Homo sapiens: one gene and its partners. The protein of the gene in region 3 interacts with the protein of the main gene of each other region in a pairwise test. Each region holds a gene or a part of one and is shown on either strand. Other genes may lie near its edges. The genes, in order: FMR1, MARK3 and HCN1.

What was found.
Region 1: the proteins of HCN1 (region 3) and FMR1 interact in binary tests that used the Homo sapiens proteins (3 or more experiments, as listed by UniProt).
Region 2: the proteins of HCN1 (region 3) and MARK3 interact in binary tests that used the Homo sapiens proteins (3 or more experiments, as listed by UniProt).

Annotation. Positions count from the first base shown.
Region 1 is NC_000023.11:147,932,411-147,936,066, reverse strand, and holds part of FMR1 (fragile X messenger ribonucleoprotein 1), read right to left. Parts: intron 3,643-3,656; coding exon 3,472-3,642; intron 3,383-3,471; coding exon 3,304-3,382; intron 1-3,303.
Region 2 is NC_000014.9:103,468,792-103,472,447, reverse strand, and holds part of MARK3 (MAP/microtubule affinity-regulating kinase 3), read right to left. Parts: intron 1-3,656. UniProt on the Homo sapiens protein: Serine/threonine-protein kinase. Involved in the specific phosphorylation of microtubule-associated proteins for MAP2 and MAP4. Phosphorylates the microtubule-associated protein MAPT/TAU. Phosphorylates CDC25C on 'Ser-216'.
Region 3 is NC_000005.10:45,262,770-45,266,425, forward strand, and holds part of HCN1 (potassium/sodium hyperpolarization-activated cyclic nucleotide-gated channel 1), read right to left. Parts: intron 42-3,656; coding exon 1-41. UniProt on the Homo sapiens protein: Hyperpolarization-activated ion channel that are permeable to sodium and potassium ions. Displays lower selectivity for K(+) over Na(+) ions.

The DNA of each region.
Region 1 (3,656 bases), on a different chromosome or scaffold from region 3:
TCTGTACCTGATTTAAATCTGCTTCTTTGTCCATGGTAAATATTTTCAGAATTCTGTATGGAAGGCACATTTATAAAAGATAATCTAAGTCTGAAAGTGGCTTAAGCAGCTATACATACATCCAAAAGGAATACAAATTCTTCAAGGTCAATGTGTTAACAGAGTATCACTCCTGTGCATTACTTACAAACTTTAGCAATGTATTAAAAAGTGAAGGGATTAGTCACAGAGTAAAAGATTAAGAAAACCCACTTTAAGATAACTCAAAACCACAATGAAAAAGCTTTAAACCAATTTAAGTATTTTTCAGTAACATCTATTAAAACTTGGGATTTCAAGTACCAGTAAAAAATAGGTACTTGATCATTTCCTTATTTATTTTACAATCATATACATTACTGGAAAATGACTGCTTTCATTTGCATCATGACACGAGTGGTAAAGCAAGACATTACAAACTTAAGAATTACTAATTCTGGAAATGTACATGTGAACTACATCTGATTCTGAGGGCTCACCCAAGGTACCTAAGTACCCTTACATTGGCCACATCCACCATGTGCTTGCCCTCACCATCTCATCTTCCATTTTTTCCTTTTCGCCTTTAAAGGCAAAGCTCAAGGCAAAGTTGGGGGAAAAGATGGAAGCAAAAATTTGCTTTGAGCCAATGCTAGATAAGAACTCAGTGAAAAGCCTTCTCACAAAAAATTCTTGTGGCTCTTGTAATCAGAGCATAGCTTTGACATTCTTGCTGTGTGTGGCTGCCTCATTCACCCCTAGAAACTCTTTGACTGGTCATAGAACAGATCTGACACCATTAAATCAGGATTCTTGGTCTAGGTCCTTCTGTCAATTATTTCTGTTCTTCTATAACGAAAAGGGGAAAGGTGAGGTGAGAGAAGCTACTTGGAGTCTTCACACAGTTTGATTTTAAACTGCAACACTTACATTTTCATGAATTAATGTTGACTTTAATAAAGATCTAAGTGAGTTAACAAAATGAAAAATGAGATTTGGGGATGTTTTTATTAAGATAATATCTTAATTATCCTAAGTACTGTGTGTTAACTATAGCTGACTGAATAGTCATACCAATTCATTCTTAGTGAGTGAAGAATCCAATTTTAATGAAAAGATAAATTAGTGCACATACCAAAGAGAGTTTGTGAAAAATAGAGATCACAAATAACGTTGGTTGACTCAAACAAAACACATGCAAAACTGATTATGACACCTCTCTAAAGATCTGCCTTGCAGAATCTTACACAAAAATGCTTTCTGAAAAGTTCCAACGTTCCCAGTGTTGCAGTGGACCATCTCTAAAACAGAATTATCTCATTTTACTAACTAGAAACAACAAAACAAAAACAAGGCTGATTTACTTTTAGCAGTCTTTCTGGTTATTTCTGAGATCCTCTTCTTTCCAGGTAACCACAGGTAGAATCTACTTTTAATATTTAATAGCAAATAATCCAATTCTACATTACACTTATTTCCAAATCCCAAAGAGCAATTTACTGTGATTCTGTTCTACTGAAATGGAGTTGTTTTGAATAAGGTGAAGAACAGAGTCCCCTACTGTGTCCAGAATTGTCCCCTACTATATCTTCCAATTTAATTATCACATCAACTCTATGAGGTGGATCCTATTATCACATTTGATAGGTAAGAAAAATAATTCTCAGGGGGGCTAAGACAGTGACCCACGCTCACATTGCCACCAAAGAATAAAGTAGGACTGAAATCCAGATCCAACTCCAATGCCCAAGCACTTTCCCCACTACCATCATGCCATCTTCAAAACCAACTTTAATGAATCTGACACATAATTCTCTACTCATTTGCTATTAAAAAAAAAAAACAAAACAACTACCAGCTCTTTTTCCATAAGAATTCCTAAATTTACAATAACCTTTCTAACTACAAAAGGTATGCAATTGCTTGACAAGCTGTAAAGAAGAAAATAAATATTATTCATCACCCAACTGTCTTGAGATTAGCACTTTATCTTGCGCTATGCATACATTCTGTACACATACAATTGGTATGCAAGTTACCTTAGTAACATTACAAACACATTTCTCCAGTTGTCTGTAGTACACAGTTGAGCTAACACTTCTGCATTATTTTCCTACTATTTGCACTTTATCTTCAAGCTAATTTTCTTTGGGAGATACATTTATCATTTCTAGTGTTTGTTAATGACAAGGAAGATGTTTATGAGTCTATGCTGACAAAAAAGCAGGCTAAATTAGCATTGAAACTACGTAAACAGAATGTATGAGAAGTCCTTGCTTTCTTCTTTAAAGTTTCCAAAGAACATGTATTACTTTATATAAAATGGCCATGATCTCAAGTTTAAAAGATAAAAAACATATAGGCAGTATGTCCCAATTTTATTTACAAATTAAAAACATATGTAGCTTTCTTGATAAAACTGCACCTGGTTTTGATATGTTCTACTAAAGATATCTGCAGCATTTAGGAGTATTGGTGAAGAGCTCCTAAATATTTGCTGATACTCACGATGGTGATGGTGATAAAACACTACTCAAGTCAAAATGAAGAATTACTATTGACTTTGCAGAAAGTCCCAGAGACATCTGAAGTTTCTTCTAGCTTTGGAACTTTTTAGATTTAAGTAACCTATGTTCAGATCTTCAACCCTGAGATAATTAAAATGAATGCTATCATTTTATAGTCCCATAAGAAAGATCAAATACAAATCTATTTCAAATCATAAAGTCCCCAAATATCATTCATTTTGAAAAATTATTTAATTTTAAGATATAAAAGGTATACAGTCAGGAGGGCTGGGCAAGATTTATCCTTTCAGGTATTAGTAGGTTTGAACTAGAAAAGCAATCTCTTTTGAATACCTTCTGAAAATGTAACCTTTGAGCATCATACTTAACAAATATTTTTTTGTATGCTGTAAGAACAGATCGATTGAACAATGAGAACACATGGACACAGGAAGGGGAACATCACACTCTGGGGACTGTTGTGGGGTGGGGGGAGGGGGGAGGGATAGCGTTGGGAGATATACCTAATGCTAGATGACAAGTTAGTGGGTGCAGCGCACCAGCATGTCACGTGTATACATATGTAACTAACCTGCACATTGTGCACATGTACCCTAAAACTTAAATAATAAAAAAAAAGAACAGATCATATTTCAAAGACTATGTTTCAATTAAATGATACCCTCCAGTAAGAAAAAATGGAATTCTATCACTATAAATAAACTGTTTACCTAAACTTAGTTGTTGTACTATATGTCAACAGATACTTCTGACTTACCTACTAAGTTCCTTGGAACTTGTATTACATCTTCAGCAAATTCGAGAAAGCTTCTAGCTTTTTTCACTGCATCCTGATCCTAATAAAAGGGGAAACATTTTAAGACAAAAGATTAGCCAGCTGAAATACTTGTTTGGGGAAAAAAAAACTATGCAGTAAAATATTTACCTCTCCATAAATATGAAATGTGCAGGTATCTTCATCTAGATCAATAGCAGTGACCCCAGGTACTTTTCTAGCTTGCTGAATATTAGCACCATGAGTACCAATAGCTAGACCCATCAGATCTTCTCTTACGATAAACTGTTCATGAAATCTCGAGGCAAGCTGCCTTGAACTCTGAAGAGAAATGG
Region 2 (3,656 bases), on a different chromosome or scaffold from region 3:
ATGTTCTCGATCTCCTGACCTCGTGATCCGCCCACCTCGGCCTCCCAAAGTGCTGGGATTATGCGACCGGCCAGAAATTTCATTTTTATGTAATCAAATTTGTAAGTCTTTTATTTCATGGGTTTGGTGTTTGGGGTGACAGAAACACCTTCACCAGTCCAAGTTACAAAGCAAATAATCCCAAGGTTTCTTTCAATATTTCTGGAGTTTTATTTACATCTTTTTTTTTTTTTTTTTTGAGACGGAGTCTCGCTCTGTCGCCCAGGCTGGAGTGCAGTGGCTCGATCTCGGCTCACTGCAAGCTCCGCCTCCCGGGTTCATCCATTCTCCTGCCTCAGCCTCCTGAGTAGCTGGGACTATAGGTGCCCACCACCACGCCTGGCTAATTTTTTCTATTTTTTAGTAGAGACAGGGTTTCACCATGTTAGCCAGGATGGTCTCGATCTCCTGACCTCGTGATCCACCTGCCTCGGACTCCCAAAGTGCTGGGATTACAGGCATGAGCCACTGCGCCCAGCCCTATATTTGTATCTTAACTCCAATTAGAATTCATCCTTGTATAAGATGTGAGAAATTGATCCAAATTAATTTTTTTTCTGAGAACTACCAAATTGCCCCAATACCACTCATTGATTAGTAAACAGTGATTTTTTTTTTCATTTTTTAAAAAACAAGCTAACCCCTTGAAAATCAGATGATCACCATTCGCAGAAAAAGTGCACACATATGGGGTGTTCACATGTGGGTCTCAAACGAGGAAGGACAGCTACAGATTACATCGTAGCTTTAGAGAAGCAGGCACCCATGCAGAGGTCAGCATCCACAGGCAAGGAAAAGGGAAGGGAGAGGTGAGACGAGGCAGGAGGATGAGGTGAAAGTTAGCCCGGCTATACAGGCTTGCCTGCCTTCAGAAATTCCAAGAAAGATGAGGATTATGAAAAAGCTACTCCAATGAGGTGCTTCAGTGGAGAAAAAACACAGGGCTTGGACCAGCAGGCCTGAGCTCTGCCCCAGGTGTTTCTCATTTACTATGTAACCTTGGGAGACTTGGTAATCTCTCTTGGTCTATTTAGGGATAAAACAGAGGTTTGGTGAGTGTACAATACCATGTCTAAAGCTCTTTTTATCTCTAAAATTGAGCTGGGGGGAAAAAGGCACTAATAATCTGGATGGAATCTATGTGCTTAAGGAATAACTTACTAACATATTCCTTAGAGAAATGTGAAAATCCCATTGTCAGGTTTCTTCTAGGATTGAGGGACAAGTTAAACCAGATGGTTTCAGGGCAATATATGGGCATTTAATTGCCATGTGGTCCATAAGCACTAGAAACCCCCCTTGTTAGTGACTAACATGAACACAAAAAAGGCAGACCTAGATCAACACGTCACCTACAAATGCTAGGAGCACAAATCCTGATGTGAGAATGAGTTCTGAGCTCTCAGTTACACCCTAGAATAGCAGGCACTGTAGATGGTTTACTAGTGATATTAGTACACTGTTGCTTCAGTCTAAACCATGTAGAAAGGCAAGCAACAGAAGGAAGAGAAATGGAAATCAAGCCAAGTGTAATCATTTTTAGTACAAAATCAAAGCTGTCCACACCTAAAATGCCCTGTGCAGTCCTAAGTGTCAAATCTCAAGATGAAAGTATTAAGATGGAAAATGTCCAGAGAAGAGAAATAAAATGAGGCCGAGCGCAGTGACTCATGCCTGTAATCCGAGCACTTTGGGAGGCTGAGGTGGATGGATCACCTGAGTTCAGGAGTTCGGGACCAGCCTGGCCAAATGTGGTGAAACCCCGTCTCTACTAAAAATAAAAAAATTAGCTGGGCATGGTGATGCATGCCTGTAGTCCCAGCTACTCGGGAGGCTGAGGCAGGAGAATTGCTAGAACCCAGGAGGCGGAGGTTGCAGTGAGCCGAGATCGCGCTATTGCACTCCAGCCTGGGTGACAAGAGTGAAACTCCATCTCAAAAAAAAAAAAAAAAATAGATTTAGTTCCTGAATCCTGGAATAGTAGAATTAAAGGAAATATCTGCAATGTTAACATTTATAGTTATGGGCAAGTAAACACACACGCTAGCCTCAGGACTCTGACACACAGGCTGCCTTGAAGGCAGAGCAACTGTAGAGCCTGGTAAGCCTACCCACTGGGAGTCTTATGTCTCATAAAGGACTGGCTTCTAGGTGAAGTTTAAAAGGGAGAGTGGCTTAACCACACTAACAGCAAGAGTATGGATGAGAATGACACAGTACAACATTTAAACCAATTAAGGCAAAACTGAGGTTCCATATATTCTCCAGGGCTGTCCTGTCTATTATGAGAGTTACTGGCCACAACTGGCTATATATTACACTTAAGTACAAATTTTTTTTTTTTTTTTTGAGATGGACTCTCACTCTGTCACTAGGCTGGAGTGCAGTCACACGATCTTGGCTCACTGCAACCTCTGCCTCCCAGGTTCAAGCGATTCTCCTACCTCAGCCTCCTGAGTAGCTGGAATTACAGGCACACACCACCATGCCCAGGTAATTTTTTTATTTTTAGTAGAGATGGGGTTTCACCACGTTGGTCAGGCTAGTCTCGAACTCCTGACCTAGTGATCCACACGCCTCGGCCTCCCAAGGTGCTGGAATTACAGGCATGAGCCACCATGTCCGGCCAGGAAAATTTTAAAAGGGTAAAAATCAGCCAGGCCAATTACAGACTCACACGTGTAATCCAGCACTTTGGGAGGCCAAGGTGGGTGGATCACCTGAGGTCAGGAGTTCTAGACCAGCCTGGCCAACATGGTGAAATCCCGTCTCTACTAAAAATACAATATTGGCCAGGTGTGGTGGTGTGTGCCTATAGTCCCAGCTACTTCGGAGGCTGAGGTTGCAGTGAGCGGAGATCATGCCATTGCACTCCAGCCTGGGTAACAAGAGCAAAATTCCATCTCAAAAAATAAACAAATAAATAAGGCCAGGCGCGGTGGCTCACACCTGTAATCCCATCACTTTTGGAGGCCAAGGTGAGTGGATTGCTTGAGCTCCCAAGTTCAAGACCAGCCTAGCCAATATGGTGAAACCCTGTCTCTATTAAAAATACAAAAATTAGCCGGGTGTGGTTGTGCATGCCTGTAATCCCAGCTACTCAGGAGGCTGAGGCAGGAGAACTGCTGGGACCTGGGAGGTGGAGGTTGCAGTGAGCCAAGATCATGCCACTGCATTCCAGCCTGGGCGACAGAGCCAGATTCCATCTGAAAAATAAATAAATAAATAAATAAATAAAAATAATAAAAAATAAATAGAAATAAAAAAGGTAAAAATCATTTCCTCAGTTCAAGTACTTGATAGCCACAAGTGGCCAGTAGCTTCTTGACTGGACAGCACAGATACACAAAACTGTAATCATCTCAGAAAGTTCTACTGGACAGTGCTACTCTACAAAGTAAATCCAATGCAGAGGTGAAGAGAGTGAATAGAACTACAGACTAGCAGTTCTATTCAGTTCGGTACAGCGCCCAGTTCTAGCGCTGGGCATGGTGGCTCACGTCTGTAATCCTAGCACTTTAGAACGCTGTGGTGAGAGAATAGTTTGAACTTGGGAGTTTGAGACCAGCTTGGGCAACATAGCGAGACCCCCATCTCCATTTAAAAAAAAAAAAAAA
Region 3 (3,656 bases):
ATCCTTCTGGAACTTTTGCAGAAGAATTGAATTTTTCTTTCCTGTCAGCAAAAGAAAGATAGGCACTTAGAAAGCCTACCAATGACTGATGACAACGCCAAGTGAGAGTGGCTCCTGCAAACAGAAGTATAGCTGTGCTTCACAGGAGAGGCTTAAAAAGCCAGTCACTCACCTTTACACACCAAATACCAATGTGGCTCCTACCTTTCACACTTCCTGTATTTCTCTGGGAACTCTTACCTTCTACTCAAGTTGAACGGCCTGTAATATGGCAAAGAGCCACTTTACAGAAGAAATGGAGATATTTAACATGAGGGCCACCTTGAAGAATGGGGGAAGAAAGGGCTTTTGGAATAGGATGGGCTTGGAATCAACATTTGATTTTAAAGTTACTTTTTCAAGAAAGGACCATGGAGACATAAGCGAGAACATTTGAACACGTACTATGTGATAAGCACTCTACAAAAGACCTTAGGTAGATGATTTTATGTAACCCGCGACCCTGTCAGATAGGTGTGTTCATAATCTCATTTTACCTGAAAGGAGATCAGGACATGAGAAGACTAAGAACAGTGCCCAGGAAAACAAAAAAAAAACATGGTTGGCAGGTAACAGGGCTGAGAAAGACCATATACACAAAAAAGTGATTGCACATCCTTGCTATGGAAAATGAACCAACTGCCCCTGTCTCATCTGTGTGCTTGCTAGAAACTCAGCCTCCTGGGCCTGACCCCACTTGCTGAATCAGATGTTGCATTTTACTAAGATCCCCAGGTGATTCCCAAATGCAAATCTGAGGAGGACTGTATCAGGTTTTGCTTTTGACCCAGTGTCTTACACCAGTCATTCTCAGTCCTAGTTGGATATTTTTCTTATCTCTGGAGCTTTAAAAAATACTAACATCCACTTGTTCCCTACCAATTAAATCTAAATAATCATACATGGGCTCTGAATTTCAGTAGTTTAAAAGCAAATTTCCCCAGGAAATTCTTTTTTTAAAATTTATTATTTATTTATTTTATTTTATTTATTTATTTTTTTGAGACGGAGTCTCGCTCTGATGCCCAGGCTGGAGTTGCAGTGGCACCATCCCAGCTCACTGCAAGCTCTGCCTCCCGGGTTCATGCCATTCTCCTGCCTTAGCCTCCTGAGTAGCTGGGACTACAGGTGCCCGCCACCGTGCCCGGTTAATTTTTTGTATTTTTAGTAGAGATGGGGTTTCACCATGTTAGCCAGGATGGTCTCCATCTCATGACCTTGTGATCCACCCGCCTCGGCCTCCCAAAGTGCTGGGATTACAGGCGTGAGCCACCACGCCCAGCTTCCCCAGGGAATTCTTAAATGCAGCCAAGACTGAGACTGACTTTATGATCTTTCCTCTTCTGAATGGTTGTTGTGAGGACCAAGGGCATAGTGCATTGCAGGCTCTCAGCTCCCTCTAAGACCTCAATAAATTTTACCTTTTCCTGCCATCATCTTCTGAGTGGTTTGCAATACAGCTTTTCCTGCCATCATCTTCTGAGTGGTTTGCAATACTAGACAGTCTCTGGCATAATAATTATTAGAATGAATAGTGGATTGGTGAAAGAAGGGGAAAGTAGTGACTTTTCTATGGCATCATTGATACACTAATCTCCAAGTGAATATGGTAACTGAAAAGTGAATCAATTTGCGATATTGCTAAATAAACTAACACATTAAAGGTAACAAAATATATTTTTGAAGATAAATATGTATTGTAATTTCATTGACTGCTAGGAATGCAATCATTTTAAATGACTGCCAAAATAGTTACCTCTCCCTACTTACAGACTGTCCTAATTTCCCAAAGAACAAAAACTCCTACATTAGTAATAAATATAAATGCTTATTTAGCATATTTGCTTAACTAACTGCAGCATACATCTATATGCAATGGCCACAAAACCGAGAAGCATAATGTTTCTTTCTGATTATGTGAACAGTCAAAATATCTTAATCTAAGTATCTTTAACCTTGGGAAAAATAATGTAACTTTTAATACACTCTTACTATGTTATAAAGATCAAAAATTCAATTGCTTAGTGCCTATTAGAAATTGCATTGCCTGTATTGATTACGAACCATTTCATGTAAATATTGTTATAAAAATTAACTGCAGGCTGGGCGCGGTGGCTCATGCCTGTAATTCCAGCACTGTGGGAGGCTGAGATGGGTGGATCATGAGGTTAGGAGGTCAAGACCGTCCTGGCCAACATGGTGAAACCCCGTCTCTACTAAAAATACAAAATATTAGCAGGGCGTGGCAGTGCACACCTGCAGTCCCAGCTACTCAGGAGGCTGAGGCAGGAGAATTGCTTGAACCTGGGAGGCGGAGGCTGCAGTGAGCCGAGATCACACCACTGCACTCCAGCCTGGGCAACAGAGCAAGATTCTGTCTTAAAAAAAAAAAAAAATTAACTGCAATAAGTTAGATGAAAGTGAAGCTGTATCAGATTAACAGAAATTATCTAGTGAAATATCCTGATTTTAATGTTTTCTCTAAGGATGTCTAGCTGGTTTAGGAAGAAACTCATTGCTTAGAAATTAGTCTCTGTCTCTAACATAAACACTCACACACTACAAAGAGGGAAGTTATTTTCCAATTAAGTAAGGATGCCTTCAGGAGTGCCTACTTCTTTTGTGGGTATTGTCTCCCTGAATGAGTAGGTCTTGTTAAATCTCTAAGATTTCAATATGAATTTCTAATACGTTTGTTATATCTAATGATGATGTCCAAATACTGCCTTTACTTCTAATCTATTTTCAGATCTCTATGCAGTCTGCTGTCCTACTAATATAGAGAGAAAGGAAGATGTGAATGTGAAGTGCAGAAAAAAAGCCAACATAACAATTTATCAATCTGAAGTCCTTACCTTTAATAAGAATGAAGCAGTTGAGGTACCTCCTTGTTTATCACAAGTGATCCCAGCCCCATCTTTTTTGAGTTCATTTATTCCTTCCTCCCTTCCTACCTCTCTTCAACAAATATTCATTGTATACTAGGTACTGTGAATGTAATGGTGAATTAAACATGAGCTCTACATTGACAAATTTAGCATCTCTAGAGCCAGTAATAAAAGCAGTGCTGTGATGGGGGAGCTTCAGAGGCTATAGGAGAATGCATCCAAGGAACTGGGCTTAGTAGGGAGTGGGAGGTCAGAGAAGGTTTCTAGAGGGAGGTGATATCTAAACAGAGAGAGGAAGGTTGAGCAGAGTCGAGCTGACCAAAAAAAAGTAGAGAAGGGGAGGGTGGCAAAGAGGGTTTAGGTGTGGAAAATGAATGCATACTACCTTACAACATAATGTTCCAGGATATCTAGGAATGTTAACAGCAAGCCAATCCAAGCTAACTTTACTATGGCAATTATGCAAATCTTCAAACTAGCATAACTAATAAGGCCTAATGGTTGTATATATATATTTTTTTATTTGGTAGCAGAAAAGACTTTAAAATATGTTGATGTTTGCGAGGTAAAGCATCTATGTAGGGCATTACTATCAAGGCTTTTTTTTTCTGCTTGAGTCTATATTACAAACATTTTATTATGTCTCTGCTGAGATTAATTTAAATGTGCAAATTTTCAATTCCTAATATAAAGATAAAATGTAAAGTTGATCCAAAAATACAAAAAAAG